Linked DNA regions of Homo sapiens. The protein of the gene in region 1 purifies or fractionates together with the protein of each later gene. This does not show direct contact. Each region holds a gene or a part of one and is shown on either strand. Other genes may lie near its edges.

The links.
Region 2: the proteins of UBLCP1 (region 1) and PSMB2 purify together in Homo sapiens (affinity purification with mass spectrometry; 2 studies listed by BioGRID and IntAct, with this or other methods). This does not show direct contact.

What each region holds. Positions count from the first base shown.
Region 1 is NC_000005.10:159,256,026-159,268,572, forward strand, and holds the start of UBLCP1 (ubiquitin-like domain-containing CTD phosphatase 1), read left to right. Parts: upstream 1-7,264; 5' UTR 7,265-7,335; intron 7,336-12,547. UniProt on the Homo sapiens protein: Dephosphorylates 26S nuclear proteasomes, thereby decreasing their proteolytic activity. Recruited to the 19S regulatory particle of the 26S proteasome through its interaction with 19S component PSMD2/RPN1.
Region 2 is NC_000001.11:35,622,380-35,634,684, forward strand, and holds part of PSMB2 (proteasome subunit beta type-2), read right to left. Parts: intron 9,159-12,305; exon of another isoform or gene 9,057-9,158; intron 8,966-9,056; coding exon 8,895-8,965; intron 1-8,894. UniProt on the Homo sapiens protein: Non-catalytic component of the 20S core proteasome complex involved in the proteolytic degradation of most intracellular proteins. This complex plays numerous essential roles within the cell by associating with different regulatory particles.

The DNA.
Region 1 (12,547 bases):
AGAACACTGAGATAATATGCAAAAACAGCAATCATGTAGTTTTAAAAATGAACTCTAGGATTAAAGGAGAAGTATGTAAACAGCTAACTATATTTTGTTAAAGATTTATAGGAACATTTTCACATGACAAAGAAGTTCCCAACCACTGTGGACCCTCACTGGTGCCGAGATGTCTGTGGTTATTGGTCATCTCTTGATCTCAACTCCCTCCTTGTCCCCTTACCCTTACACAAAAAGAGCCTAAAATTTGTCTTGACTTAAGATGGTACTTTAGAATGATGGTCCACCATCTTCTCAGTTAGCTGGCTATCTGAATAAATCTGCTTTTCCTTCCACCAACCATCATTTTTCATGTCTGGCTTTCAAGCAGTGAGCAGCTGAACCTAGGTTCAGTTACATGGGGCAGTAATGAGGCATCCCTCTCCCTCCCAACCAGGGTGGTATCAGTGGAGGCCTAGTGGGGAGCCTGAACTCCCAACCCTGCTCAGCAGTAATGAGATACCTTCCCCACCAACCTAGGTTGTCAAGGGAGGCCTGATGGAGAGCTTTGACTCTCTCCCTAGTCAGAGAGGTTGGAGGTGGCATCTCCCTTCTCCTAACAATTCAGTGTCAGAGGAAGCCTGCTGAAACAGAAAATTTAAATAAGATTCAGCACCAAGATAATACAGATGTTGGAATGACGTTATCCTAGCCTACATGAAGGGTTTTAAAGCAGTCATCATAAAAATGCTTCAATGAACAACTAAGAACATGCTCAAAATGAATAAAAAGTGTTAGCAAAGGAATAGAAGGTATAAAGAAAAATAGATGGAGATTTTAGAACTGAAAAATACAATATCCCAAAAAAAATCAATGGATGGAAGAATGGAGGGGACAGAAGAAAGAATGAGCCTGAAGATAGAACAAGAGAAGTTATCTAATCTGAACAATGGAGAAAAAAATGGACTGAAAAAAAATGAACTGAGGTTCAGGGACCTGTAGACTATACCAAAATATCTAACATTTGCACTGTCAGAGCCCTGGAAGGAGAGGAGAAAGAGGGTAGACCTCAAAAAGTGTTTAAAGAATTCATGTTTGAAAATTGCCCAAATTTGGCTAAAGACATAAGCTTACAGGTTAAAGAAGCTGAGTGAACCCCAAACAAGATAAACACAAATAAATCCCCATCATGACACATCATTAGTCAAACTTTTGAAAACTAAAGACAAAAGATAAAAATATTGAAAGCAGCAAAAGGGAAACAATGGCTTATGAGTAGAGTAGAAAACAATTAGAAAGTCACAGGATTTCTCATCTAAGACATTGGAGGCTAGAAGAAAGAAGCACATTTTTCAAGTGCCAAAAGAAAAGAACAGCCAGCCCAGAATTCTGTATGCAGTGAAAATATGCGTCAGGAATAAAGCGGAAATCAAGACATTCTCAAATGAAGGAAGACTAAGAGCTTTTGTTGCTAGCAGACCTACTGTGATGGTTAATTTTAGATGTCAATCTGACTTGATTAAGGAATACCTAGAAACCTGGTAAAGCATTATTTTTGGGTGTGTCTGTGAAGATGCTTCCAGCAAAGATTAGTGTGTGGGTCTGAGTGGACTAGCTGGGGGAGATCCACCCGCAATGTGGGCAGGCACCATCCAATCTGCTAGGGGTTCAGAAAGAACAAAAACAGAGAAAAGGTGAATGTGTCACTCTATCTGCCAGAACTGGGATGCACTTTTTCCTTTCTTGTCCTAGGAAAACAACTCCAGGCTCCCCAGCCTTTGAACTCTAGGACTTACACAAAAGTCACCCTCCCTCCCCAACCAACTGGGTTCTCAGACCTTTGTCCTTGGACTCGGAGTTACATCACTGACTTCCCTGGTTCTGCAGCCTTGGAGCTTAGACCCCGCCACACTACCAGCATCCCAGAGCCTCCAGTTTGCAGACGACCTGTCAAGAGATTTCTCAGCCTCCACAATTGTGTGAGCCAATCCCTCTAATAAATCCCCTTACGCTTCACTTGAACTACTAACATGTTATCGCTAATTGACTGTTTTAAGTTATGTAAATATAATGTAATACCTAGAGCAACCACTACAAAATTTACAGAGATAAACTAAAAAAAATTATACAAAGAGATACACTCAAAAACCTTGCAGACAAATCAAAATAGAATTCTAAAATAATATTCAAGAAATCAATAGAAAAACAAGAAAAAAATAGAAAAACTAAAAATAGAAGCAACAAACAGAAAACAAAATATGGGTTGGAAGACTTAAGTCTCAACAGATTACGAATTACCTTATAAACAAACAGTCTACTTTATTTCTAAAAGGCAAAACTCAGAAACAACTAAAATGCCCAGTAAGTGAATGGCTAGACAAATTGTTGTACATCCACACAGGGAATCCTACTCAGCCATAAAAAGAAATGAACTATTGATACACAAAATAGCTTGACTGGATCCCAAGGGCCTTATGATGAATGAAGAGGCTGATTTCAAAACACTTATACTGTATGATTCCATTTACATAACATTCTGGAAATGACACAATTATAGAGGTGGAAAACAGATTAGTGGCCAGTGATTAGGAGTGGTCCGAGGAATGTGGATGGATGTGAGTACAAAGAGGTAACACAAGTGCTATGTTTGTGGTGATGGAATAGTTCTTTGTGTTGATCATAGTGGTAATTACATGAATCCGCATGTGATAAAATGGCATAGAGCTATATGTACACTCATTGCATCAATGTCAATTTCCTGGTTTTGATGTACTATAGTTATATAAGATGTAATTCACTGGGGAAAACTGAGTGAAGGGTACAAATGACTTTTTGCAGAAGTTTATAATAATTAAAAATTATAATTATAAAGTAATGTATTTATAATTATAAATATAAGTATCATTATAATTATAAAATATTTATAATTATTTTTAAATAATGGTATTTTTAAATAATTGTAGATTTTAAATAATTGTAGGTTTAGATAATTGTAGATTCCCAGGAGAATCTACAATTATCTAAAAATAGAGTTTAAAAAGTCTCATAAAAGTCTCATAAAAGGCATGGTGGCTTACACCTGTAATTCCCAGCACTTTGAGAGGCCAAGATGGGTGAATTGTTTGAGTTCAAGAGTTCGAGACCAGCGTGGGCAACATGGCAAAACTCTGCCCTAGAAAACACACACACACACAAAATTAGCTGGATATGTTGGCGCGTACCTGTAGTTTAAGCTACTCGAAATGCTGATGTGGATCACCTGAGCCCAGCACGTCAAGGCTGCAGTGAGCCATGATGGTGCAGTTGCACTCCAGCCTGAGTAACGGAGCAAGATAAAAAAAAAATAACATAAACTATACATATGTGTGTATGTGTGTGTATAAAGTCTAGAAAAGCAATGATAGGCACTACAAAAAGTTAGCAGAGTTATGAACGTATCTGTGTTATTTCAATATTTTTTAAAAGAATGCCTTTATGAACTTCTCATATAAAAAAGAAATAAAAGTAATGTAAAACTGTAAAAAATTCAGATGTACATAAAAATATAAACAAGATGGAAATTGCCTGTTCTGTGATGCCACAGATAATTTCATTAATTCACCTAACAAATATTTACTGAATACATCCTATAGAGCTATGATCTATCACGATTTTAGTGTGCATTTCAGACCTTTCCTGTACCTCCAGAGTTATATACAAATTGTAATCATTCATTGATATGTATTGTTACAAGCGTAATATGTACAGCTGGCCCTCTGGATCCACAGGTTCCAAAACTACGGATTCAACCAACCTCGGGTTTGAAGTATTAGGGGAAAAACCCAAAGATAATAAGACAACAATAAAAAATAATGGAAGTAAAAGCAATACAGTATACCAACTATTTACATAGGATTTCCATTGTATTAGATATTATAAGTAATTGAGAGATGATTTAAAGTGTATGACAGGATGTGTATAGGTTATATGCAAATACTATGCTATTTTATATCAGGGACTGGAGCAGCCTTAGATTTTGTTATTTATTGGGGGCCCTAGAACCAATCCCCTACCAATACCAAAGGACAACTGTTACATCATAAGCTCTTATTACTTAACATTCATTATTCATTCATTCAGCATATATTTATTGAGCATCTATGTTAGCCAATATCATGCTAGGTTCTGAGAATGGAAAGGTGAATAAATTGTCTGTTCCTTAACAAAATTTACTGATATGGTTTGTCTTTGTGTCCCCACCCAAATCTCATCTCAAATTATAATCCCCACGTGTTGAGGGAGGGGCTTGCTGGGAGGTGATTGGATCATGGGGGTGGTTTCCTCCATGCTGTTCTCATGATAATGAGGAGCTCTCACGAGATCTGATGGTTTAAAAGGGGCAGGTTCCCCTGCGTGCACGCTCTCTCTCTCTCCTGCTGCCATGTAAGACATGCCTTGCTTCCTCTTCACCTTCTTCCATGATTGTAAGTTTCCTGAGGCCTCCCTAGCCCTGTGGAACTGTGAGTCAATTAAACCTCTTTTATTTAGAAATTACCCAGTCTCAGGTAGCATCTTTATAGCAGTGTGAAAACTAATATGCTTACAATATAGTGGGAGAGAATGTCACTAAAGAAAGAATATTTCCAAGAAGTATACAATTATAGATTATGTCAAGTTCAGACAACTGTAAACAATGTTCTGAATATCCATCTGTGAAAGGAAAGGGTGATGGCTATGATGGCAAGATACCATGGCATGTTTATTATTGATGGGAATGAGCCAGTAGAAAGAGGTTAAAAATACAAGAGCAAGAGAAGGGAATCCTGGATTTATAGAAAGCTTCCTTAGAAGGAAGAAGCCGGAGAACAAGTTAAAGGGTTGGCTTCAAATAGAAGCGAACTGCCTCAACTGAAATAAGCAAGAGTGAGGATGACTGAAAATATACCTTAGTTTGTAGATTCAGAGGTTTGAAGAATTGCCAAAATATGGGACAATGTCATCTGCCTAGAGCAAAGGAGTATATTGGAAGTTCTGAGGTTTGAAGAGAATGGAGTTTTTAAGTAGTAGTTTGGGGAAAGCATGCTGAATAGAGAAGGGCAGTAACTGGGCATGCTTCATTAAGAACCTGTATTCTGTCATGTGGGGCAGATTCTAAATATTTTCAGCTCTCTTACTGCAGGCAAGATAAAGGCAAAGGAGTAGGTATTAGAAGAGAGAGACAAACTTCTAGAGGGAACTAAATTTTTGAAGAGGATTGTCTTCCAACTGGGAAGAGAGGGAAAGCTTTTTGAGGGGAGTAGATCTGAGCTGGGCAAGAGAACACACTTGCTAGAGAAAGAAAATGGCCAGAGAGAGAAAAGGGGAGAAAAAAGTCTGGGGGAGATGGAGATAAAAGCAGAGTAGTGGGGGATTTCTGGCCTAGGTGCAGGAATGTCCTTTTATCTTCCAAAGTAAATGTGGTCACAGTAATATTAACAGTTTGTCATCTGATGTTGTGAAATTGTTTCCATATATTATTTAGACTCTCAGACCTGACAATCTATGGAGGAATTCCCAGGCATCTTTAGCTGCTACAGAGATGCATGAATGAAGGACAAGTATATTATCCTCCACACATTAGAAGAGAGGCTCCAGGGAGCAACAGGAGGCAAAAGTTCTTCTTTTCTTTTTTTTTTTTTTTTTTTTTGAGATAGTCTTGCTCTATCACCCAGGATGGAGTGCAGTGGCATGATCTTGGCTCACTACAACCTCCACCTCCCAGGCTCAAGTGATTCTCATGCCTCAGCCTCCCGAGTAGCTAGGGTTAAAGGCACATGCCACCACACCTAGCTAATTTTTTTTATTTTTAGTAAAGACTGGGTTTCACCATGTTGGCCAGGCTGGTCTTGAACTCCTGACCTCTAGTCATCTGCCTGTCTTGGCCTCCCAAAGTGCTGGGATTACAGGTGTGAGCCACACTGTGCCCGGCCAACATTTATCATTTGTGTTGAGACTATCCCAACCTTTCTCCTCTATTTTGAAATACAAAATAAATTATTGATTACTATAGTCACCCTACTGTGCTGTGGAACGCTACAACTTATTCCTTCTGTCTAACCATATTTTCGCTCCTTTTAACTTCTCTTCATCTCCTTCTCCCTCCTTATCCTTCCCAGCCTCTGGTAACCACAATTTTACTCTCTATCTCCATGGAGTCAACTTTTTTTTAGCTCCCACATATGAGCACCAAACTTCAATGTAAGACCCAAAACTATGCAGCTATTCCAAGAAAACGATTTGAGAAAATGCTTGAAAATGTTGGTCTGGGCAATGATTTTTTTTTTTTTTTTAATTAAGACTTTCTGAAGAAAAGGGCATACTTTTCACTGAAAAAGTTTGAGTTTTTTAAATGAGCAGATACTCATGCATTACTAGTGCAGCCAAAAATTATCAAAAGTAGGGAAGAATGCAAAATAGCGTGTGCCTCTTAACTAAAGAACTGTTAAGATACAAAACTTGGCTCTTTGCTGCCTTTCCCGCACTGCCAAGAGGGAAACATGAATTAGTTACATTGCCGTGGTGCTCACTGGGAGTTCGCTGTATGGACCAGATGGGTACTGCTCCGAATTTCCATTCAAGTCTGACATTCTTTTGTCAGCGTTTGTGTAACCGGTTTTCCTTGCATTCAGAGGAAAGACAGCATGGAAGTATGGATGGGAAGGTTGAGACGATTGGATACTGTATGGTAACCTCGATCGCAGCTCTCCTATGAGACTTGCTTCTTGGATTCTGAGTCACTTAAGCTTGCCCCTTCTCTTTCCTGACCCTCTTCCGTTTCCCCTTAGATTGGAGATTCTCCTCAGATTCTAAGTCTCTGAAATTATTAGTGTTGGCAGCCCCTGGGCCCATGGAGGGGTCTCAAGTCTTCAGTTCTCAAAGATCACCTTTTAAGCTTCATTCGGAACATGACACAGCCACACGAGTCCTAGCCCTGAATCTCACGAAGACCTCAGTACACCTGGAAAAGGCAGCACACCCAGTTACGACACTACTAGAGACGTCACACGCCTCAGCACCCATCCGCTCCCAGCCCAGAACGAGCGCACGCGCAGAACGAGAGAGCGGCCACCCAGGGATCGGCGCTATCTGCACAGCGGTTACAGTCTCGGAAAGGCCTGGCTTCTTCGTGGCTTTGTGGAGATCCCTTACAGCGGCCATTTGATTAGCACCCGAAGAGATTCAAAGGAAGCAGTTGTTCCGTCCCCAACATATTTCCGTTTCAAACCACCCACTTCCGGTTTTTCAGCCGGTTCCGGTCCCGCCCTTCACTTCCGGTCGCTTTCGGTCTCTCAGCGGCCGGTTTCTGCGTCCGCTGCCGCAGGTTCCACCGCGCTCCAGGTGAGGGGTTGCGGGGCACCCTGGCGCGCTGCCCTTGGAGACGCTGTTGGGGCTCGGGGACAGTGGCTTTGCGGCCCGCGCGGCGTGGCTTGCACTGCGGCGGGCTGGGGATAGTGTCTGTCCTAGTCTGACGCCCAGGCCCCTAGCCCCGGCCCGCTTAGTCGCGGGGGCCGCTGTCCTCCCATCCAGCAGTCTAGCCTATTTGGAGGGCTTTCTGTTTCCCAGTGGGTTTTGCGTCCCCAAACTTCATTCCTCCGTCTTCTCAGGCTTGTCCATCCCTCCCCTCAACCTCCTTGTTGAAGGCATCCCGGCCTTTTTGGTTCTGGAGCCTCCACCTGCCTCCTAATGCTCCCCTAAGTCAGTTAGCACAGCCCCCGACCCTGCACCACCTCGCAGTTGTTGCTGGTGTGCGGTTCTCGCCGGAGTTCTTAGTGCTTCACGGTTATCTTTTGCTGGGATTGTTGAAAGTTAACCTCCCGTTAATTCCCAAAGTGTTACTTTTACTGCTATACTTTAAAATTTCTTCATTTGCCACTTTTTAGGTTTGTGGTCCCGGGCAAGTTTAATTTCTTTTCAGGATTCTCATTTGTATAATGAGGACAACAGCTGTTGGTTCAGGATTGTGAAGCTTCAATGAGATAATTGTTTAGCATGTTTTTATTCCATCATGAACACCATTTGTATTGTGTTTTACAGTTTACAAAGTGCTGTCACAGGTGTTACTTCATACCTTAACACTACTCCTGTCCAGTGAATATTAGTAGCCTCATCTTGTTGAGAAGACTGAGGCCAAGAGGTGGATTGACTAGGCAAAGTCAACACAGTATGTTAGGTAGAACTCCAACCTAAACAGCTATTCTTGACCCTAGGTTGACCATATGGAAGTGTATTCTTTGCTTGCTTGTTTGGGTTTGCCAACTTCACTCCTCCCCACACCCCAAATCATTTTTCAGCTTATAAATCTGATGGGATCTGAAATGATACAAAATACTAAGAAAGAAGGTTAAATGTGAAAGCAAAATAGCTCATGCATTTATATCACACTGCTTCATTGGTGTGAACGGTCTTAATGATGAAATAAGGTTCAGTAACTTTTAAACAAATCTTAAAGACATATGCATTTACAATTTTTATGGTGTTTGTTTCGCTTGGCCCTTTAAGGCATTTGCCAACTTGGAATTTCCACTTGTGGGATAGGTGCTTCGTAACGTTTTTATGCTGCTTTATTAACCATATAGAGCCCATGCCCTCTGGCACATTTTTTTTAAGGCTGAAAACATTGAAGAGCCTGTAGTACTGACTCTCAAATTTGAGCATTCATCAGAGGTGAGGAGGACTGACCTTGTTAAAACACAGATTCCTAGGTCCCTTCTCTCCACCCCAATTACATTTCTACCAAATTACCAAGTGAGGTCAATGCTGTTCGTTAGCCCAGGGACCATGCTTTGAAAACCACTAGTCTAGAAGAGCAATCACTTGTCCAGGGTCACCTGGAACTCAGATGATTTCACTCCAAACTCTGCACTACTACGCATCACAATATATGCGATATTAGTGCTGGTTGCCTTTCTAGCTCTCGTAGGATTCCCTTTTATTCTTATGTCTTACAGAAAATATTTAAACTGTATTTCAGTTTAACTCAAAAGGTCCACTTTTAATTGAAGAATATAACATTTGTTATAGTTCTGTCTAAAATGGAATACGTTACCCTAAATTAAGACACTTGCTTTACATTTTCAGTAGAACACATTGTAAACATAGGAGTAAATATACATTTATAGTTCATATTTGTATTCATATATGAGTAAATATAAATATGAATTTATGGCTCTCTCTTCTAATTGGCCTTTTAGTAGGAGACACTGTTTTTAAATTATTTTTGGAAGTGGAGATTAAAAATTTAACCTCTTTCTTGCAGTTGGTCCTAATAGTTGCATGAAGAGTGCAATCAAATGTTTCATCAAATAAGTGAAAGCATTGGAAATACCAATACCTTGAGATTAGAAAATCCAGTTCTCTGGACTGTGGGAGGAATGAGTTTAATGAAAAATAGAAAGCTTTATGCAGGAAGAGACATATGTTTGGTTATTTACATGAGTGGCAGCCACTATATAATCTTTGTGTGCTTAGATCTGTACCCATGGGTTTTGTATTTTCTGATTGATATGGTTTGGCTGTGTCCCTACCAAAATCTCAACTTGAATTGTATCTCCCAGAATTCCCACTTATTGTGGGAGGGACCCAGTGGGAGGTAATTGAATCATGGGGGCCGATTTTTCCCGTGCTATTCTTGTGAATAAGTGAATAAGTCTCATGAGATCTGATGGATTTATCAGGGGTTTCCGCTTTTCTGTCTTCCTCATTCTCTCTTGCCACTGCCATGTAAGAAGTGCTTTTTACCTTCTGCCATGATTCTGAGGCCTCCCTAGCCATTGTGGAACTGTAAGTAGCTGGGATTACAGGCGCCCACCACCACCTCTGGCTAATTTTTTTTTGTATTTTTAGTAGAGATGGGGTTTCACCACATTGGCCAGGCTGGTCTTGAACTCCTGACCTAAGGTGATTCACCTGCCTCAGCCTCCCAAAGTTCTGGGATTACAGGCATGAGCCACTGTGGCCAGCCTTGGGTATGTCTTAGCAGCATGAAAACAGACTAATACGGTAAATTGGTACTAGTAGAGTGGGGCATTGCTGAAAAGATACCCGAAAACGTGGAAGCAACTTTGGAACTGGGTAACAGGCAGAGGTTGGAACAGTTTGGAGGGCTCAGAAGAAGACAGGAAAATGTGGGAAAGTTTGGAACTTCCTAGAGACTTGTTGAATGGCTTTGCCCAAAATTCTGATAGCTATATGAACCATAAGGTCCAGGCTGAGGTGGTCTCAGATGGAAATGAGGAACTTGTTGGGAACTGGAGTAAAAGTGACTCTTGTTATGTATTAGCAAAGGTACTGGCAACATTTTGCCCCTGCCCTAGAGATTTGTGGAACTTTGAACTTCAGAAAGATGATTTAGGGTATCTGGCAGAAGAAATTTCTAAGCAGCAAAGCACTCAAGAGGTGATTTGGGTACTGTTAAAGGCACTCAGTTTTATAAGGGAAGCAGAGCATAGAAGTTTGGAAAATTAGCAGCCTGACTATGCAGTAGAAAAGAAAAACGCATTTTCTGTGGAGAAATTCAAGCTGGCTGCAGAAATCTGCGTAAGTATCAAGGAGCCTAATGTTAATCCCCTAGACCGTGGGGAAAATGTCTCCAGGCTATGTCAAAGACCTTCATGGCAGCCCCTCCCAGCACAGGCCCGGAGGCCCAGGAAGGAAAAAAGGTTTCGTGGGCCCGGCCCAGGGTCCCCGCGCTGTGTGCAGCCTAGGGACTTGGTGCCCTGTATCCCAGCCACTCCAGCCATGGCTGAAAGGGGCCAACTTACAGCTTGGGCTGTGGCTTCAGAGGGTGGAAGCCTCAAGCCTTGGTAGCTTCCATATGGTGTTGAGCCTGTGGGTACACAGAAGTCAAGAATTGAGGTTTGGGAACCTGTGCCTAGATTTCAGAAGATATATGGAAACTCTTGGACGCCCTGGCAAAAGTTTGCTGCAGGGGTGGGGCCCTCATGGGGAACTTCTGCTAGGACAGTGTGGAAGGGAATTGTGGGGTCAGAGCCCCCATACAGAGTCCCTACTGGGGCACTGCCTAGTGGAGCTGAGAGAAGAGGGCCACCACCCTCCAGGCCCCAGAATGGCAGATCTGACAACAGCTTGTACTGTGTGCCTGGAAAATCCACAGACACTCAATGCCAGCCCGTGAAAGCAGCTGGGAGGGAGGGTTTACCTTGCAAAGCCACAGGGGTGGAGCTATCCAAGACCATAGGAACCCACCTCTTGCATCAGTGTGACCTGGATGTGAGATCTGGAGTCAAAGGAGATCATTTCGGAGCTTTAACATTTGACTGCCCCGCTGGATTTCGGACTTGCATGGGCCCTGTAACCCCTTTGTTTTGGCCAATTTCTCCCATTTGGAATGGCTATATTTACTCAATACCTGTACCCCCATTATACCTAGGAAGTAAATAGCTTTCTTTTGATTTTACAGGCTCATAGGCAGAAAGGACTTAACTTGTCTTAGATGAGACTTTGGACTGTGGACTTTTGAGTTAATGCTGAAATGAATTAAGACTTTGGGGGACTGTTGGGAAGGCATGATTGGTTTTGAAATGTGAGGACATGAGATTTGGAGGGGCCAGGGGCAGAATGGTACAGTTTGACTGTGTGCCCACCAAAATCTCAACTTGAATGATATCTCCCATAATTCCTATGTGTTATGAGAGGGACCCAGGGGAAGGTAATTGAATCTTGGGGGGTGGTCTTTCCCATGCTATTCTCATGACAATGAATAAGTCTCATGAGATCTGATGGGTTTATCAGGGGTTTCCGCTTTTGCTTCTTCCTCATTCTGTCTTGCCACTGCCATGTAAGAAGTGCTTTTTGCCTTCCACCATGATTCTGAGGCCTCCCCAGCCATTCTGCAACTGTAAAGTCCAATTAAACCTCTTTCTCTTCCCAGTCTTGGGTATGTCTTTATTGGCAGTGTGAAAACAGACTAATACACTGATCTTTGATGCCTTAACTCTTGTATGTTCAACTGAAGAGATACAATTGTGGAGGAGAAGAAACATAAGATTTAGTCAGAAGACCTGTTCTGTAACTAGCTATGTGTCTATGTACAGATTGTATAGCCTCTCAAAACTCCTGTTTCCTTAATTGTAAAAGAGGGAAAACTTACCAAATTACTTTCTCTAATGAGATTGTGTAAAAACTTCAATTCATAAAATATGAAACAAAGAATGGCTATTTACTATTTATTTAGCACAGTGCCTGCCTGGAACATAGTAAGCTTTTAGTTTAAAAAGATTTTTGTTTAACCAATACTTAATTTATGTAGTGTTTACTAGGTGCCAGGCACTATGTACCTTGTAAATGTTAATTAAGTTAATCCTCATAAAAGCCCTAAGAAGTAGGTAGTATCATCATCCCTATTTTACAGATGAGGAAACCTAGACACTGAGAGTCAAGTAACTTCTCAAAGTCAGATGGCTAAGTGGGAGAGATCTGGGATCTGAACCCAGGTCATCTGGCTCTAGAATCTGTGTTCTTAACTACACCACACTACCTTTCAAATGTTAAATGAACATGGATGGTCTGTCAGGGAAGGACTTGCTTGTAG
Region 2 (12,305 bases), on another chromosome or scaffold:
ATAGTAAACATTTTAAAAGTAAAAGCACATTCCTACTAAGCAGACACAGCACTATCCTGCCTTAGGCTTAAACCAAACCTTAATAGGAAATCACAAAATTTTTAAGACACGAGTTTTAAAACAATATAAATCTAGACCAAGTACATATACTGCTTCACTCCCATTGTGGATAGGAAAGATGCTTTAAGTGAAAAGTTGGCATTATGGGGCTGCAAAATTCCAGCCATCCAATAGGCTTATTCCATTCAATGAGCACGGGGGTTCTCTGGGCTCGCAGCAGGCATCCAACAGGGTAGCACATATATGCTCTCTGAGTGAGAAAGCAACACCTTCTCACATACAACCCCCTGGAGAGAGACAGGGAAGGGGAGGGGGAGGACTTTACACCTGCAAACTCCTAACTAGCTAGGGCTAGGAAAAACAGCACATTTAAAAAAAAAAAAAAAGAAAGAAAAAGAAAAAAAAATTTCCTGATAAAGCCAGTAACTTTCAAATAATCTTCCCAAGTTATTTTTTTTAGGATCCTAGTAAGTGTAATGATTCAACAGCCAGTCTTTGTCTTCCTAATGGACTTAGTCAAGCTTTAACTAATGCATACGCATACTGCTTAAAAGGGCAGCTGTCAGAATGCTTACTCCTCCTAGTAGAAAAACACTATAAGCACAAAGTGTTGTCATATTAATTGAGACACCTCAACTTCAAGGCACATCTGTCTCTGGGTCTTTGGATAATCAAAATGACCACTAAAAACAGAACAGCGGTATCTCCAATGGGGCCAACATGAGCCACCCCCAATCCTAAGAGACTCCTGTGAGATGGGACCTGGGATACACATATGTTTTGCAGAACCAAACTGAGTATCCATCTAAATGTAGCCATTTGTTTCCAGTTTTTACTTTATGTCCTGTTAAGGCTGGGAGACAAAAGTAATGAACAGACACGTAACTCTTGGCCTACAGTGACAATCCACAGTTAGCTCACTAGCTGACTAAGGTTTGGTAGGGAAGAAAACTGCTCCCCAGGTCTAAAAGGGCTGCTGCTTGCACTGACAGTCCAAGAGCTGCATAATGAACATCTTGGTTTTCGTTTTTTATTTTTGAATTTCCGCATCACCAAAAGTAAGCTGGCTCTGTCTGTCAAGATGCCCAGGCTGTGTGGCAGCAGTGTCAAAGGCTGCCTCTTGCTCCAAGGCACTGCCATCTGCAGCAGCACAACATTTTGTCTCCGGAAAATAAACACATCTGCCTTTGCCAGTGTCCTCCCACTGTGCTGCCCATCTGGAGCAGGTGAGCTGAAGGCAAGCCTCGGCATGGGTGAGACGGGGGCAAGTAGAGAAGATGAGGCCTCAAGGGAGATGGCACATGGAGGAAGAAGGCAGTGCTGCGTCATGTCACATCCTGCTAACCACGTTTGCCAAAAATCATGTGAAATTACCCTTGTTAGTGATATTTCAATCACATGTAACAAATGGTTGGTAGTGTATAAGGGACAAGACTTGCAAAGTCAGGGTTTCACCTGGGCCATCTGTTCACAGGACCTCACTGATACCAATAAACAGATGATGCCTTTGTGCCAGCCACCTAAGGCATGAGAAGAATAATTCTCATGGTCAGAATAGAAGGCTCAAAGCAACAGGTTTCTTCTAGGACAGGAGCATGCTATACATGCCTACTACTAACCAGACCAAACAGCCTTGAATTAAGGCCAGAGTGTGGGGATAAGCTTTGGTCACTGCTGGAAATGACTAAGACCTGAAATCCTTTCCTACATATTCTTTCCCATTCCCTAAAAAAATAAATAAATAAATAAAAATTCAAGTCTGGTTGTGGTCTTGACATAAGATTTTTAAATCATGCTATTTGGGGGCTGGAACAAACCCTAAAAACCATCCAATCAAATGCTTGCTTTCTCCCAAGGTTTTCAACTAACTCACAGCAGAGCTAGTATTAACCCTCCTATTGCAGGGCTCTTTGGTGGTAAGGGAACAGTGATGGCACCTTTTCAAATAAAACTTTACCTAGAATTCCTATCTATCAAATAGATAAAAGCTGAGTTGAGCTATATGAAGCAGAGCTAAAGTGCTGAACACTTGGCTGGGTGCAGTGGCTCATGCCTGTAATCCCAGTACTTTGGGAGGCTGAGGTGGGCAGATCACTTGAGGTCAGGAGTTGGAGACCAGCCTGGCCAACATGGTGAAACCCCGTCTCTATGAAAAATACAAAAATTAGCCAGGCATGGTGATGCATGCCTGTAATCCCAGCTACTCAGGAGGCTGATGCAGGAGAATTGCTCAAACCCAGGAGGCAGAGGTTGCAGTGAGCCGAGATTACACCACTGCATTCCAGACTGGGTGAGAGAGCAAGACTCTGTCTCAAAAAAAACAAAAACAAAAACAAAAAAACGCCAGGCACGGTGGCTCACGCCTGTAATCCCAGCACTTTGGGAGGCCGAGGCGGGTGGATCACGAGGTCAGGAGATCGAGACCATCCTGGCTAACACGATGAAACCCCGTCTCTACTAAAAATACACAAATTAGCCAGGCATGGTGGTGCACGCCTGTAGTCCCAGCTATTCGGGAGGCTGAGGAAGAAGAATCACTTGAAACTGGAAGGTGGAGGTTGCAGTGTGCTGAGATCATGCCACTGCACTCCAGCCTGGGTGACAGAGCGAAACTCCACCTCAAAAAAAAAAAAGCATTGCACACTGGTCTTCCTTGGTGAGTATCCTGAAGCAGCTTCACAGAATAAAGTTTGAAAACCACTACATCAGGCTGGATATCTTTTCAACTTATTATTTCTACTGTTTACTTGCTAAGCATTTACAAATAAATAGGTAAAAAGATAAATTACCAAAGGCTCATGAAACACTTCGGAAAAAGTTCTAATGAAAACTCTTTGGCCAGTGTGGCAGTGAAACCCGACGATTACACATCATGGAGGCCAGCATCCTACTCTAAGCCTTGCCACAAAATTTCACGTTCCCAAGGACACCAGATTTGCCTGGTTTATACCTGTCTCTCTATCTGTTAAATGGAGATAATTTTAGGGCATTCAGATGGGCTACATCAAATATGCCACATAATTCATTTTAAGTAAGAAATAGGCTGGGCATGGTGGCTCATGCCTGTAATCCTAGCACTTTGGGAGGCCAAGGCGGGTGGACCACGAGGTCAAGAGATCGAGACCATCCTGGTCAACATGGTGAAACCCCGTCTCTACTAAAAATACAAAAAAGTAGCCAGGCATGGTGACGGGCGCCTGTAGTCCCAGCTACTCAGGAGGCTGAGGCAGGAGAATGGCATGAACCCGGGAGGTGGAGCTTGCAGTGAGCCGAGATCGTGCCCCTGCACTCCAGCCTGGGTGACACAGTGAGACTCCGTCTCAAAAAAAAAAAAGAAAAGAAATAGCCCCATAACTCATCATCCTCTGACATTAGTCAAACTGTAAGGAGAATTTGAGAAAGGAAGCCTTTTTTTTAGACAGAGTCTTGCTCTGTCACCCAGGCTGGAGTGCAGTGGCATGATCTCAGCTCACTGCAACCTCCACCTTCTGGGTTCAAGCTATTCTCCTGCGTCAGCCTCCTGAGTAACTGGGATTACAGGTGTGTGCCACCACATCTGGCTAATTTTTTGTATTTTTAGTAGAGATGGGGTTTCACCATGTTGGCCAGGCTGGTCTTGAACTCCTGGGCTCAACTGATCTGTCCATCTTGGCCTCCCAAAGTGCTAGGATTACCGGCATGAGCCACTGTGCCTGGCCGAAGAAAGCAAGCCTTGAGCATAGTATAAGCCCTTTTTCTGCTCTTTGGGGTCTAACCAACAAGAAGAGACCATCTTAAATGTATACAAGCATTTAAATAAACAACTAAACTGAAGGCTTCTGAATTTTTTCCCCATCTGTCTTTTTTCGTCTTCTGATGATTTCATGCCTTTAATTCCTATACAAATTAACATCCATTTATTAAGAATACTTCTTCCGGTATTCCATTCATTAAGAATTCCCTTCCAGTGTATAAATGCATAATTAATATTCTCAGCAGAATATATAGACCTAGCTGGATGACACTTTTTCAGCAAACACTTATTGAAAACCTACAATGGACATATATTCAAACTTATCTATATAATACTATGTGCAATTTCGACATTTTAACAAAACTGAACATTTCATGTTTCCCTAAATGCACAAATACACTTGTACATTAGTCCACTAATTAATAAAGAAGACACCATGAAAGAGTTTGATATTTGAAGCTGGAATCTTAACCTTTAACATAGTATATATGTGCTTTGGAAACATATCTAAGAGAAATACTTAACATCCTTGTAAGTAAAATGGGGATAACACACATCTTATGGTGTCATAATAAGGATACTTAATAACAGATACATATGTAAGTATTTAGAATAGCACTGTCCAAGAGAACTTCTATGATGATGGATATGTTCCAGATCTGTGATGTCTAATACAATAGTTGTGGCTATTGGGTACCTGAAATGTGGCTGTGACTGAGGAACAGAATTTTTTTTTTTAAGAACAAAAGTTGATTTAGCATTCAGGCAAAGTCTACCAGGAGATTTTCCACCAGAAACTGAATTTTAAGTTTTATTTAATTTTAATTAACTTAAATTTAAATAGCCCCATGTGGCTAGTTGGCTACCATACTGGACTGTGTAGATCTAGAAAAATCCTAGCACATAATATATGTTCAATGTTATTTTACTTCTATTTTCCCTATCAATACCAGCATGGTGGCTTGGCGCCTGTAGTTCCAGCTATTTGGGAGGCTGAAGTGGGAGTATTGTTTGAGCCCGGGAGGTTGAGGCTGCAGTGAGCTGTGACTGTGCCACCTCTTAGGTGACAGAGCGAGACCCTATCTCAAAAAAAAAAAAAAAAAAAAAAAAGCACAACAAATGATCCCTCACGAAAAACTAACTTATAGCCATTAAATTGCTTCTTTGACCAAACAGCAATCGCAGCATAAAAACACAAGTGGGCTGGGCATGGTGGCTCATGCCTGTAATCCTAGCACTTTGGGAAGCAGAAGCGGGAGGATTGCTTGAGCCCAGGAGTTCGGGACCAGCCTGGCAACATGGAGAAACCCCATCTCTACAAAAAATTAGCCAGGCATAGTGGTATGCACCTACAGTCCCAGCTGCCAGGGAGGCTGAGGTGGAAGGATCATCTGGGCCTGAAAGGTCAAGGGGCTGCAGAGAGCTGTGGTCATACCACTGCACTCCAGCCTAGATGACAGAGTGAGATCCTGTCTCAAAAAAAAAGTAAGAGCTTTGCATTATTACCTTATTTAATCTTCATAATAACTTTTTGAAATTGGTAAGTAGGGAAATTAAGCTTAGAATTTGTCCAAAGACATCCAGCTAGTAAGTCAGTAAGCAAATATTCAAACCCAGGTAGTCCAATTCCAGAGACTATGCTCTTAACCACAATGCTAAATTGCCTACATTTTAATGAACCAGTTTATGTAAGATTCATTATATACTCAGTGGTAGTAAATGTCCTCCCAACCAAACCACCACACATACACAGAGCAAATTAGAAATCAAACAATTTGAGCTACAGACACAGAAGTTATACATGGTAACTGGCTGACCCAAAATGAGTCACATCTGCCAACTGGTGTGACCATATAAATATACTAAATTTGGTGACTTTGCACTTATTAGGAACACTGACAAACTATCATCTCTCTTCCCAGAATAAGACGACTAAAATATAAATTCATATTTTAGAACTAAGAATCTATTTTGATAAGGAGATGGGGGAGCAGAGATTGGACCTACTGGAAAAGCTCAGGCAGAGGTAGTCAATATTTACCAGAGCCCCATGTCACTGTCTACAAGGGATATTTGTTAAGACATCAAACATTTCTGCTAGGAGAAGATTAAACCAGATTCACTGCATTTGCATGAAGCACACTGCCATTCTTATCTCAATTCCAAAAAGGAGCTTAATTCACTTAATGTCTGTGATATTTATGACACAGTATTTATTGTGCCCAAAGCTGGAATTCTTACTCCGGTTCTGCCTGATAAGTCAGAGGAACATCGTACATGGCAAGTCATAAAATGCTGAACACCACAGGAACTTCTGGGTGACAGAAAAACTAATATCTGACCCATTTTCCTTTCTCAAGGAGGAGTGAAGAAAAGACCACTTGGTGACAATGACTTTCTTGGAAGAAAAAAAAAAAAAAAAAAATATATATATATATATATATATATATATATATATATTTTTTTTTTTTTTTTTAAAGAAAAGACTACTGATCTTTCACCCAGGACAAAACAATGTATGTAAATTTGCCTCCTCCTCTCAATCCTACATGTCTCTAGCTTCTCTTCAAACTTCATGATCCCTCAGATTGTACAAGCCCTTGGTCAAAGCTAGCACTGAGAGGTACTATTTATTGAGAAATTATCAGTCAAAGATTATTAGGCACTAGAAAATAAACTGCTTTATAGATCTGTAGTAAGTAACTTTAAAAAAAGTAACTTGTTATTTTAAGCAAGTACAGATGAAAACTCAAACCATAATAAAAATATGAATAGCATCAGTGTTCTAGAAACACTACTGAAGAACCAAAGGCAGAATAGTCAAATAATTATGGCACCATTATTTTAGCTTTGTCTGACCTGCTGTGTGACCTGGAGCTAGTCCCTTTGACACTTTATGCCTTTCACTTCATCTCAGTGATAGAGACTATCTTTCTCAGTGGAATAGTGAGTAGATTAAATTATTAAGCAAAATGCTTTGGGCAAAAGTCACATGAATGTTAAATATTATGATTTACAAGCATTCATTTTCCTGGCACCCCTGTGGGGTTAGGAAGTTATCTCCATTTCATAGATAAGTAAACAGGCACAGGGGGTGAGATCACGTGGTAAGGCTCTATTTATTTAGTCCCTGTGGGAAGGGAATAACACACACCTTTAGCAACCATATGAACTTTCCTAGCACATCCTACACAATCTTTAATGCATTCAATCCTTAACTTAGTGTTGCATCTTTTAACATGCTGTCGATGAAATGGAGACAGCTCTAGAATAGCAACAAGGCTAGAATAAGTAAGGAGGAACAATGCTGTATGCTTTGGGAAAAAGTCATAGAAAAACACAGGTAAGTACGCCAGGTACAGTGAGTGGCTCATTCCTATAATCCCAGCACCCTGAAAGGCCAAGGCCAGCAGATTGCTTGAGTCCAGGAGTTCAAGACCAGCCTGGGCCACATGGTGAAATCCTGCCTCCACTAAAAATACAAAAAATTAGCCAGATGTGGTGGTGCACACCTGTAGTCCCAGCTACTTGGGAGGCTGAGGTGGGAGAATCACCTGAACCCGGGAAGTTGAGGCTTCAGTAAGCTGAGATCACACCACTACACTCCAGCCTGGGCAACTGGAGTGAGACCCCGTCTCAAAAAAAAAAAGAAAAAAGAAAAAGAAAAAAAGAGAAACACAGATAAGCAATCTCGAGATAAAAATCCACATTACCGGCCAGGTGCGGTGGCTCGCGCCTGTAATCCCAGCACTTTGGGAGGCCAAGGCGGGCAGATCACCTGAGATCAGGAGTTCGAGACCAGCCTGACACCTGACCAACATGGAGAAACCCCGTGTCTGCTAAAAATACAAAATTAGCTGGGCGTGGTGGTGCATGCCTGTAATCCCAGCTACTTGGGAAATGGAGGCAGGAGAATCACTTGAACCCAGGAGGCAGAGGTTCCAGTAAGCCAAGATTGCACCATTGCACTCTAGTTTGGGCAACAAGAGTGAAACTCCATCTCAAAAAAATAAAAATAAAAATAATCTGAATTATTATTTTCAAAGTTCTACTTTCACTAACACATAGAGACTTTCAGTCACAGGTATTAAGTAATATGGTTTGTTACAAAAACACTTTGAAAAAACTAAACGTACTCTTACTATATGATCCAGCAATCACACTCCTTGGTATTTACGCAAAAAAAAACTTATGTTCAAACAAAAACCTGCACATGGATGTATACATTAGCTTTATTCATATTGCCAAAACTTGGAAGCAACCAAGATGTCCTTCAGTAGGTGAATGGATAAATAACCTGTAGTATATCTAGACAATGGAGTATTTTTCAATGTTAAAAAGAAATGAGCTATCAAGCCATGAAAAGACATAGGGTAACCTTAAACGTGTATTACCAAATAAAAGAAGCCAATCTGAAAAGGCTGCATAATCCATGATTCCAACTATATGACATGATGGGAAAGGCAAAACCATGGAGAAAGTAAAAAGATGAGTGGTTGTCAGGAGTTGTGGGGATGGAGAAGGATGAATAAGTAGAGTACAAAGGATTTTTAGGGCAGTGAAAATACTCTGTATCCTGTAATGGTAGATACATGTCATTATACATTTGTCCAAACCCATAACATCCACAACAGCAAAAGTAAACCCTAATGTAAACTATGGACCTGGGTGATTACTGTCAATATAGGCTCATCATTTGTGACAATGTATCACCCTGGTGGAAGATGCTGATAATGGGGAATGCTATACATGTGGGTGAGGAGGAATGTGGGAAATCTTTATACTTCTTCTCAATTTTGCTGTGAACCTAACACTGCTCTAAAAAATAGTTTTTAGGGGGAAAAAAAAAGGGTAAGTTGTCACAGGCCTTCATATTGGTGTGTCCCAACCAATTCTCTGGGAATGAATATTTGCCCTTTGGGCTGTACCTATTAATAACAACTGTGCACAAAGACATTGGACTTAAGAATGAACAAGTAGCAACAGGAGGGGTTCTGGAAGGCCAAAAAAGGGCAAAAATACTACTCATGTATAATGAGAATATAAAAGAAGCACAAAGGATTTTTCTGCTCTATCTAACAATGTCTGATATATTACTTACCCGACTCCGAAGACAGTCAGCCAGGTTTCGGCGTGTGAAGTTAGCTGCTGCCGTGGGAGACAATTCATATCCTGGTAGAAGAGATAAAGAGTCATACTTAAAGTAAAGCAGAAGGAATAACAGTGCCCCAAATTATTCACTACCCCTGTTCCTAAAGCCCACCATCTTTTGTACACTCAGAGTAAACAAAGCATAGACTGAGGGGTACAATCCTACTCTAGTCCCTTTCCTCATGCAACAGCTATGAAATAGCTGGTTAGTACTGACAGCAATTCTTGGCCACAAACAGAACCAGTTCTATAGTGGAATGAAACTTCTAGCAGCCTTGCTTAAACTATTCATTCATCAACACACTGTGGTTTCTGCCGTAGAAGGAAAGGAACACGAATACACAAGAAGTGAAAAAAAAAGAAAGGCGTCTTAGATGCCAATCTTTTAAAAGTTTATTTTAAAAAGGATATTGGGGGCCAGTCACAGTGGCTCATGCCTGTAATCCTAGAGCTTTGGGAAGCCAAGGTGGGAAGATCGCTTGAGCCCAGGAGTTTGAGACTAGCCTGGGCAACATAGTGAGACCCCCATCTCTAAAAAAAATTTTTTTTTAAATTTCTAGGCATGGTGGTACATGCCTGTAATCCCAGCTACTTAGGAGGCTGAGTGGAGAGGATCAATTGACCCCAGAAGTTCAAGTGAGTTATGACTGTGCCACTGCACTACAGCATGGGTGACAGAGCAAGACCCTGTCTCTAAAAAAACGAAAACAGGAACAAAAAGGATATTGGGAAAAGAGAGGCTAGAAGTTAGGACTACCTCAGAGTCATAGTTTATTAAAAAAATATTTTAAATGTTACTTTATTAAGAAGTATAATATGACTTTCAAAAGTATAAGCCACAGAAAAAGAACATTTCCATCATTCTGCAGTATTTTTAAAAATAGAGTATCTCAAGTGTTAAAACTTCAAAAATAAAAGTTGTCATACCAACAAAGGTACAACCCAGAGGAATAGCATCAGGTGTGCATGTAATAACGCATTCACTTTGGAGCTTAATCCCCCTGTAGAATGGGACCAGTGCCAAAAGGCACAAGAATGATCCATAACTCAGTGGGCCCACACAGAAAATGTCAGTATGGAAAGACACACAGCAGTGTGGTTAAGTAATTGCTTACAACATTTCAAATACCACTGTCAAATTAGGAGAGATTCAGATTCAAATCCTAACAAATATTTATTGAGCAGCAACTATGTTTCAGGGTCTATGCTGAGTGTTTTCACATGTATTATTGTACTTTATCCTCACAAGTCTATTAGTGCATATTAAATCATAATGAAAGCAATCCTTGGCCAGGTGCAGTGGCTCATGCCTGTAATCACAGCACTTTGGGAAGCGGAGGCAGGCAGATCACTCGAGCCCAGGAGTTTAAGACCATTCTGGGCAACATGATGAAACCCCGTCTCTACTAAAAATATAAAAATTAGCCAGGGGTGGTGGTGCACACCTGTTTTCCCAGGTAGTTGGGAGGCTGAGGTGGAAGGATCACCTGAGCCTGGGAATTCGAGGCTGCAATGAGCCATGATTGTGCCACTGCACTCCAGCCCAGGCGACAGGAGTGAGACCCTGTCTCAACAACAACAACAAAAATAATAATAATAATTTAAAAAAAGAGGCCAGGCACAGTGGCTCACACCTGTAATCCCAGAACACTTTGGGAGGCCCAGGTGGGTGGATCACCTGGGGACAGGAGTTTAAGACCAGCCTGGCCACCATAGCGAAACTCTGTCTCTACTTAAAATACAAAAAATTAGCCAGGCATGGCGGTGCATGCCTATAATCCCAACTACTCAGGAGGCTGAGGCACGAGAATCACTTGCACCCAGGAGCTGGAAGTTGCAGTGGGCTGAGACTGCACCACTGCACTCCAATCTGAGCAACAGAACGAGACCCTGACTCAAAAAAGAAAAAAAAAAAAAAAGAAGGAACCTAGACAAGTGGGAATACTATTCAATTCTTTACTTAACCCCCTAAACACCACTGAAGATCTGACCATTATCCTAAAGGCAGAAAAGTCATGCCTGATTATCTGCATATAGATTTTCTCTTTCTTTCCCTTATTTTAGCTCAGTTCTTTAACTTATATAAGAATTACTATATAGAGTTACATACACAAAACTGTACTTGGCAGGTAATTTAAGGGTCTTTAAGGGCAATTTTAACCAAACACAGTTTTTGTCTGTGCACTGACTTTAGACCCTAAAACCCAGTAACAAACAACTCTTGCTACTCTTGTTCACTCTTCTCCCTCTCTCAGGACAGCCAGTGAAGTCATACAGTACCTACTGGACTTCAGAAGCATTACTGACATACTTCATTTGTTATGCAGGCAAAAAGTGGAACCACTGGAAAAAAAAGCAGAATTCTTGAAATATTCTAAACCTGCATAAACCTAAGTACCATGTACTTTATGTTCCTGAATGTCAGGACTAAGCCTTATTCATCTTTGAATTCTCTTAAGTATTAAGCAGAATGCTTACCATAGAAGAGGCCCTCAAAAGTATTTATGGAATTGAATACAAATGCTAAATCCACTGCCCAAACTATGTGAATAGATCTTTGGTCATTTTACACATGCAAGTATATTCAAATTAACTTCCTTCATAGCTCCATATTATACCAGTGCAGTGTATAACGTTGTTATTGAACTGTGAGGTAAGTGGAAATAAGGTTTTCTCTGCCAGACCACCACTACAAACATTCCTGGATCAGAGGCCTAGTGGCTAGTATCGTTTGCTAGGGAGGTTTTCCCAGTGGATAAGAGTTCATTAGCCCCAGAGAGAGCTCACAAAATACTTCACAAAAGTCTTAATTATCTCTCTAGAAGGAAACCTACCAGAGAGTAAGGCAGAACCCTTTTATGGCACAGTAAATACTTATAGTTAGTTACACAATGCTTTAGGTTTACAAAATATTTTCATATGTATTATTCATTAGTATTATAATTCATTTCAGAGATAAGGAAAATAAAGTCCCAGAGAAGATAAATGACTTATCACATAAAAAATAGTAAAGCCAAGGTTTACTTAGGTTTTTTGACGCTGAGATTCAGATTTTTTTGTTTCTTTGTTTTGAGACAGGGTCTCACTCTGTCGCACAGGCTGGAGTGCAGTGGCACTATCATGGCTCACTGAGACCTTGAACTCCTGGGCTCAAGTGATCTTCCCACTTCAGCTTCCTGAGTAGCTGGGACTATGGGTGTGCACCACTGCACCCAGGTAAATATTTTTATTTTTTATAGAGCCAGGGTCTTGCTTTGTTGCCTAGGCTGGTTTCAAACTCCTGACCTCAAGTGATCCTCCCATCTCAGCCTCTCAAAAGTGCTGGGATTACAGGTGCTAGCCACTGTGCCTGGCCAGGTTC